3 separate regions of the Homo sapiens genome follow, and all the other regions are linked to region 3. The links come from fine-mapping of genetic effects on gene expression. A gene starts in region 3. Each other region holds a variant in brackets. All regions are shown on one strand. Distances are between the middles of the regions.

The links. PIP is the estimated chance that this variant, and not a neighbour inherited with it, causes the effect.
Region 1: its variant is fine-mapped to the expression of GALNT3 in subcutaneous fat (GTEx, PIP above 0.99). The same link has a PIP of 0.9 or more in cerebellar hemisphere, cerebellum, prefrontal cortex, sun-exposed skin and tibial nerve.
Region 2: its variant is fine-mapped to the expression of GALNT3 in whole blood (TOPMed, PIP 0.97).

Annotation. Positions count from the first base shown.
Region 1 is chr2:165,856,412-165,859,176 of GRCh38, reverse strand. LOC100506124 (a long non-coding RNA gene) reads left to right here. Exons shown (of 4, transcript NR_045375.2): 3 at 773-962; 4 at 1,563-1,702. Among named protein-coding and RNA genes, the nearest start is that of GALNT3, 64 kb to the right of the region's middle. The variant C/T (reference allele first, on the strand shown) is at 1,592.
Region 2 is chr2:165,570,599-165,573,363 of GRCh38, reverse strand. The region is part of intron 3 of CSRNP3 (cysteine and serine rich nuclear protein 3); the gene reads right to left. Among named protein-coding and RNA genes, the nearest start is that of CSRNP3, 100 kb to the right of the region's middle. The variant TA/A (reference allele first, on the strand shown) is at 1,209.
Region 3 is chr2:165,793,057-165,795,821 of GRCh38, reverse strand. It overlaps GALNT3 (polypeptide N-acetylgalactosaminyltransferase 3), which reads left to right and starts at 1,575. Exons shown (of 11, transcript NM_004482.4): 1 at 1,575-1,807. It overlaps LOC124906086, which reads right to left and starts at 2,236. Exons shown (of 6, transcript XM_047446887.1): 1 at 2,030-2,236; 2 at 1,485-1,903; 3 at 743-1,022. The coding sequence starts at 2,236. RefSeq lists silencers at 1,633-1,782, 1,853-1,942 and enhancers at 1,013-1,918, 1,919-2,765.

The DNA.
Region 1 (2,765 bases), 63 kb before region 3:
ACGGAAGAAGGAGCCATAAAGAGCCAGGCTCATCAAAATTGAGTATAAGCAATTCTCAAAGACCATGTTGATAAACAACAAGACCCTTGACCTTTATATTCCTTCTTTATGTGCTAGGTGGCCCTTATATTTACACATTTTTAAATTATTATATAAAAAGAGCCATTAACCATGGTCCCAGCTCATGTAAAAGATGGAGAGATGCTGGGAAGGTATCAAATCAGTTTGGCTCCAGTTAGCCCCAAGGATTTTTCATTAGGCCACGCTACTAAGTCTCTCTGACTTTAATCCCATTTTCTTGGGCTCACATATATCCTGGGGCATTGTGAGGTAAGAATAAGTCAGTCAGGAATCAAACAAAATTCAAAGAAATGGATAGGCATCATGATATGGTTTGGCTCTGTGTCCCCACCCAAATCTCATCTCAAATTATAATCCCCACATATCAAGGGAGGGACCTGTTGGGAGGTGATTGAATCATGGGGTGGTTTCTCCCAGGCTGTTCTTGTGATAGTGAGGGAGTTCTCACAATATCTGGTTGTTTGATAAGTGTCTGGCATTTCCCCTGCTTTCTTGCTGTCTCTCCTGCTGCCTTGTGAAGGAGGTAGCTTGCTTACCCTTTGCCTTCCACCATTATTGTAAATTTTGAAGGCCCCCTGGCCATGTAGAACTTTCAGTGAATTAAACCTCTTTTCACTATAAATTACCCAGTCTTTGGTATCTTTATAGCGATGTTATAACAGACTAATATTAATACATATCACTTCTTTAGGGAAGGCAGTAAACAAGATGCTAACTGATGGAGTGAAATCCCCAGGAGATGCAGAAGGCAAGTGCAGCTAACTGAGGCCTCAGGGGCAGGAGATGCCCATCAGGATGAGAGCTATGTCTTTCTCCAGTGATGACTCTGCTTCTATGAGGTCACCAGCAGTAGAACCATATCTTGCTGGCATACACTTGGGGTAAGAATATCATTGGCAAAGTTGCTTAAGATCCGATCTGCTTAACTATAACTACCTCCCCCTTCCCTGTTTCCTTCATCTTCCTACTCATATACACATGATACTTTCCTCTCCCTTTTTCTAGTTCATCCCCCTGGGAGAACCACTTTCTTGCCTAGAGTGAAACTCTACTCTCTTGTTTATGTTCAACATATTTTGTTGATGCTCCAAATTCTCTTGTTCTGGCTTCTCTCCAAGGCATTTTGTCCTTTTCCTTACAACTAATGTAAAAAAGAAGAAATATCCTTGAACTTCAAACTTTTTTATAATAAACCTTAGTGATCCATCAGACCCAAATGTCTAATCAACAAAAAGAATTTAAAAACATTAACTTTTGCTCAAATACAAGAAGAGCTTAAACTCCAGACTCTTCTAGCACAGCAAGGAAAGAGAAACAACAGTACAGCTAGTTCCATATTAAAAAAATAGGAATGTTCATCTCCTTCCATAATTCAAAAAATACTACCGGAGAATCAGAAAAGTAAAAATTGTGCTTGTATAAAGAGTTCCTGGATTGTACTGGCTTCCTATATCAATCATTTCTCTCCTGCTTTCCTGTAGATGGCCCCGCCTCCTGGACTTCCATCTGT[C/T]ATCAGGAGAACATAACCATCTGGAGTCAGTACAGATCATCAATCCTTCCACATATACAAGTTCATTTTAAATTTTTAAAAATATAATACAACTGAGAAGTCTTCATTAAATTGTTCTGGTGGTCCTACCTGTTTTCTGTTAGGGATCCAATACATCTCAGAGCCACATGGGTGATGCCATAATGCCAGGGCTGAAACACTGCTTTAGGGGTCTTTTACTTTCCTATTGCTGCTATAAAAAATTACCACAAACCTTGAGGCTTCAAACATCACAAATTTATTTTCTTACACTTCTGGAGGTCAGATGTTCAAAATGGGTCTTAGAGCTAAGACCAAGGGGCAACAGAGCTCCCTTCCTTCTGCAAGCTGTAGGGAAGGCTCTGTTCCTTGACTTTTCTGGCTTCTAAGGCCTGCCTGCATTCTTTGTCTCATGATCACATCACTGTGACCTCTACTTCTGTCATCATGTTTCCTTCTCTAACTTTCCTGCCTCCCTCTCTCCCTAATAAGGACCCTTGTGATTATATTTGGGCCTACATGGATAATGCAGCATATGCTCAAGATCCCTAACTTAATCACATCTGCAAAGTTCCTTTTGCCATGTAAGTTAACACATTCACAGGTTTTAGGGATTAGGATGTGGACATCTTCAGTGGGGATGCGGGCATTATTCTGCTGACTACAGGGTCTGATATAATCGGAGGCCCACTTCCTAGAAATCAGAGAACCTGATTTCTAGTCTGCAATTAGGAAATTCAATTAGGAGAGTGCATAGGGATTGCTGGTATCTCTGTTTTACCTTTGACTTATTAGACTGTAGCCACAAATTCTGGCCCCAGCCTATAGAATGTTATAATGAGAAGCACTGGCTTTAAAGTCATACTAACTTGACTGGGATTTGTTTTTTGTTTGTTTGTTTGTTTGTTTTAGACAGGGTCTTGCTCTGTCACCCAGGGTGGGGTGCAGTGGCGTGATCATGGCTCACTGCAGCCTCGACCTCCCAGGCTCAAGTGATCCCCATACCTCAGCCCCACAAGTAGCTGGGACTACAGGCGTGCACCCACCACACCCAGCTAATTTTTTTATTGCTTGAAGAGATAGAGTCTCACTATGTTGCCCAGGCTGATCTTGAACTCCTGGGCTCCAACAGTCCTCCCATCTCAGCCTCCCAGTT
Region 2 (2,765 bases), 220 kb after region 3:
AAATATACATAAAGACACATAATCTTTCTAAATGGTAAGCCAATGAAAATATGCATCATCAAATAATCTCTTCTCTTAAAAATTAAGCAAATTTGTTTTTCTCTAAATATCAATGAATAATATTTATAAAATAAAAGGTTTTGTGCAATAATCTTTTTCATGTGTCAAAAGAAATATAACATGAAAAATTAAAAGCACACAACAAATAAATACAGATATGTGTTACTAAAGTATAAAATACATTGTTCTAATAGTGTTATTTACATTTCAAAATTTCCTTGTTTTTAAATTTTTTAATTCAAATAATTAAATATTCCAAACCTTCCTTTTGCAGTATACTAACACACATCAACAAATTTTGAATGATATATTATCTAATTTATAAGACATGTAAACTATTGCAATACAGATTGTTTTAACACTGGAAAAATAATTTTGAAGCTTTTTATGTGAACTATTTGTCAGTAGTATTCTCTTTTATATTATTTCTGCATACACAGGAGATTAAAAATTATTGGATGAATTTATTTCTTACCCATAAATTTTTAAAATAGACTAAATAACTTTTCAGTTTAATATAATGATATCAACATTTCTCTGTCACATCTGACTACATCGACAATTTAATCGCATTGGGTCAATTCAAGTGCATCCTTAATATTATACACTACAAATATCTTGCAAAGTTTTTGTTTAAGGCAAAACACACCAGCCCATTCTAATTTAAATCCAGTCAAACACAAGGAAGTGTTGGAGTAATTTATAAAATCACCAACCTGTTCAAATAACTGTAGTCTTAGTCCTTGCACTCTTTATTCATTAGGATCCAAAATAAATGATCATTTTATCATATGTGTCAGCATCACCGAAGACACAGTTCTTCCTGGTTCAGAGGAATCTTCTTAAATTTCCCAGCCCTGTGTTTTATTGCTTGTACCATATGCTTTATTGTTCAGCAACAAGAGCTTCACTCTGCACAAAGACTCATTACCTACTGCTTGCTGCACGGCATCAGCCTCACTGAGGCTGCCTATATGTGATCACATGGAGTTTTGTCTGAGAGAGCCAGGCGTGCCACTGACTTCACTGTGTCTATGGATATTTTTATCATCTGAGGTCTACTAGGAGGAAGGAATAACAGATAAGGAAGCTGCTCTAAGTCATTAATGCAGCACAACTTATGGAAATCCCTTCACAAGATTTTTTTT[TA/A]TTATAGAAAATGTTTGAGCAAGCTCCAAAAGAAGTTAACTAGATTTTATTTTAATAAGAGGTTGAATAATAATTTAAGGAAGGAGAACTTGCAAAAAGCCATTTCCTATCTCATATTTTCTGAAAGTACTTTTGTACAAATGTTATTAAAGAGCCTTGCGCTACTGAATGATTTGGCAATATGTTTTAACCATTAGATTGCTGGCATTTCTTTTTCTTGGTGTTTTGTTTTTTGTAAAAAGATAATTGCTGTTTCCTTCAAAATATCCTCAATTAAAATCTCAATCACTAAAAGATACTATATGTGAATAAAAATAGATATACTAATTACTTTTGATAAAGTAGATGAGAAGGTGAATCTTTTTTATTAATGTATATAGATGAAGTAGATGATTAATTTATCTTTTCAAAAGATGACACATTCCTAGAACAGCTGACTTAAAGGAACAATGCAGATTTCAATTTAAGTTCTAAAGGACATATGGTTTTTATTAATTTTTAAAATTGCGGTAACTTATTTTAGACAGCTTACCTCAATAAAACATATGATTTACCTTATCTGATTTCAATGTTAACAAGTAGTTTCAGGGAAAACTATCCAACATTTACAGGAATTTTCCACCACACAAATATTACATTAATATATATACAAATATGTGTGTGTATGTGTGTGTAGTCAGATTGCCTTTCTAAAAATTTTTTTAAATATATAAAATTATTTCTTAAAAACTGAAAATGGAATTTGGATTTCCAAATACAGAACTATTTAGTTATTGGAACTTATTTTAAAACATCGATTTCTTATCTCTTTAATGACTGTCTAAATTAAAATGATGTTTGAAAGCTTGTTACTTTTAAGTCTCAGTGAAAATCTTATGACAAATACATGCGAAGTGCAACAAAGAACACACACAGAAGGAAAAGTCAGAAGCACTATAAATACAGATGAGAAAATAAATTTTCTGAGTAGTTAGATATATAGTAACTTAACGGCACTTATAAATAATTCAGTAATTAAAAAGTGAATATACATATATATGTATATTTGCTTAAGCCTTCCATTAGTAAGAAATTCTTTTGGGGCAAAAAATATTATAACTCAAAATTTTTTGTGTGTCAATTGAAAGTTTTAAAAATAATTTAAAACCAGAATAGGTAAGTATGGTTAAGTAGCTTAGCTTTTAAATACAATGAGTTAATACCTTTCTTTATGATATTATTTGTAGGGTTAGCATTGATCTAGAATGTTTATGACTTAAATAAATGTTTATGACTTAAATAAATACCTTTTGATGGGTTTTTCTTAACATTGAAAGAAATATTCATATATGTTTTAGATACCACCATTTTAATGCATTTGTCCCAAAATGTTCATGTTCATTTTTAGCACAGCATTAGAGCTATGCTAAAGCTGCAAAACTTTGGGGCATTAAAAGAAAAGGGCTTATAGTATACTTCTGGGTTCTTAAGATATGTACATCCTAGTTAATATATTTGATCATGTCACCCATGCTAATGTACAAGGAAGTAAACAAAAGGCAGCCATTTTTTTTTTT
Region 3 (2,765 bases):
AGGAGAAGGAGAAGAGAATTTCAGTAGTTAGTATTTTCAGTTCTGGACCTGGACCTAAGGAAAAACACTGCCAAGTTAGTATATCAATACACACAAGTATCTCCTGAACTATTTTTTTGTTTGTTTGTTTTTGGAGGGAAAGGGAGCTTGGCAATTGCTTGTAGGTACTGATATTAAAATGTTGCAAATACATGGAGGTTCCTTGGTGCTCGCAAAATAACCATGACATGTAAAACAAGCAAAGAACTACCTAGTTTACTAAAGTCTTAAACCCTAACTCATAGATGTCCTAGTATAAAATAGCACTATGGATGCTAAAACCAATGTCTTAGAGTAGTCAAATACTAAAGATACACTTGTTGATACTATACTAAACTGTATTTTAAACCTTATTTTTAGGTCACGCATAGCACTAATAAAACAGTGAATAAGCACCATAAGAGCATGTCAAAATGTAGGAGGAAGGCCACAACTAAACTTCATAGTAAAACCTACCACCATGTGATTAAACACGACACCAAAAAGTTTTTAGCTAGTTTTCTATTTATATCCCTAGATATCTTTGGGATAGGGCCAAAGAAATGAGTTCATAGAAAGGTATAAAGGCCATTTTAAGTCCTGGTTTTGGGTGTGTCAATGTTTGTTGCAGCAGCAGAAGGAAGGCTGAAACAGAAAGTTGTGTCATAAATGGAACAAATACTGTTTAACAATTTTTTTTTGTCTTAAAAACAGCAAAACCCACCATCTTCCTGGAGTCTGCGTTGTTCTCTTCCAGAATAGATGTTGAGCTTTTAAACAAACCTGCAGTAGAAGCAAGCCCTCTCCAGGAAATCCCAATCTCTTTCCAAACAGGGACAGCAAAGGTTCTCTCTGTTGTGGCTGTTTTTCCCTCTCTTCTGGGAATTGGTTTGCCTTCTGAGAGCATCCCAGGAAGGGGAGGTGCGCCCCAAATTGGCGAGGCTCTGCCAAATACCAAAGGCTCTTCTTTGGAAGAAGACTCCTCCTTTGGACGTGAGGCGCCCCTACCAGAGCGCCCGCGTACAGAAACGGAAACCACTAGCTGCGCTGAAGTGAGTCAAGTGATGAAATCAAGACTACACGGGAAGGAAGCTCACGAAACCTAACTGGTGACAGAAGCTGCTGAACCCTGCCCGAAGAAACCACATGAGCCAGCAGTTGCTGCCCTCCCGAAGTGGTCCTCGGAGGCAGCGCACCCCTTCATTTTGGCGAACCGAGGAGGAAGGGAGGAACCGTGTGGGGGAAATCTAGAACTTCTGGTTCCCCAAGGACCCAGCAGACTGTGTTCTGGCTACAAGGTGATCACTGCCACCAGGTCAGTGCAGGATTCCTCCAATGTAGATGGGCCGGGAGCCACAACTTGCGCGGAGCAGCAGCCTCGCCGACCACTCAGAGAGAAGCCGCGCGACAGCCAGGCTTGGCCCGGACGGCGCCCCCACCCTGCGCGCGCGATCCAAGGTTCTCACCTGGAGCGCTCAGGTAGGGCTGGGGCGGGGCGGGAGGCTGGCGCGCAGGCGCGGAAGTGGGGCCTCGCCCCTGCCGACGTCGCAGGCTGGAGCTCACCTGGGAGACTCCAAGTGGAAGCCGAGCCTCGGTTCTGCCTCTCCAGGCAACGCGGGAGGCCCAGCGGGAAGGCAGGAGGCGGCGGCGGAGGAGGAGCTCTACTGAGCCGCAACTGTGGCGACAGCAACCGGAGTCGCAGCCGCCGCCACCTGCACCTGGCGCCTAGCCCACGTCCAGCGCCTGCCCGGCCGCCGCTTCCCGCCACCCTGCCCTGCCCACCCGCCAGGTAAGCCGGCGGCAGGCGGAGGGAGACGCGGTACCCCTGGGCTGCGTTAGAGCAGGCGGGAGGACGGCCGCAGGGGTTCACGTGTTGGGGACAGGGCTACGGTCCAGGTGGCCGGTTGGAGACGGTCTCGAGAGCAGTGTGTCGGTTGCCCCTGGAGAGATCCCGAAAGGGGCGCCCTGGGCCAAGGGGCAGGTGGCGCCTCGGGGGGGAGCCCGGTCACACCCTCTCGCCCACGGTGCCCCCGCCAGTCCCTATGGGGCGGCCCCTGAGGAGCTGGACGGAGACCAAAGACCTGGTGGCCCCGGACTTGCCCTTGGGAGGGTCGCAGCGTGGGGACCCTGAGAGGGAGGGCCCGGCGGGAGGCGGGCGCGCTTCCACTCCGGCTAGCAGGTTGCCTGTCTCCTCCAGCCTCTCTGCCCGAGAGGACATCCCGCGACAGCGAAAGACATGGCTTTGCCAGGCAACTTTCCTAGCCGGGGACCCCAAACAGTTCTAGGCTGCAAACCGCGGCCGCCGAGCCATTTAAATGGTTTCCGAGTGGTTTGGAAAGGGCTCTGTGGCCGGGACGCGGACACCCCTCTCTCTCTGTTTCGACTCTGCACTTTTCCGGGTGCGCTCTCCAGGCCAGAGTTGGGCCCACTTTCCTGATCAATGGAGAAGAGTTCTTTTCTTCCGTGGCGGGAAGAAATCCAACTGCCACGCACCAACCACTCACCATCTCGTTAGAGGACCTGTTGACTTAAGGACCTGCATATCGCGGCTATGGTTTGCCTGTGGCATATGACTCAAAGGTTCAAAAAAACATTGTTTCAGGATCCTGCCACGTCTAAGCTTGGGTGTGCCAGGCCCAGATTCCTTTCCCTGCCTAATTAGGCTTTTCTGAAGCCTAAGAATTGAGGGTGAAACTGGCGCTTACCTTAGACTTTTATTTCCTTCTCTTTCCAACTCATCAAAGAAA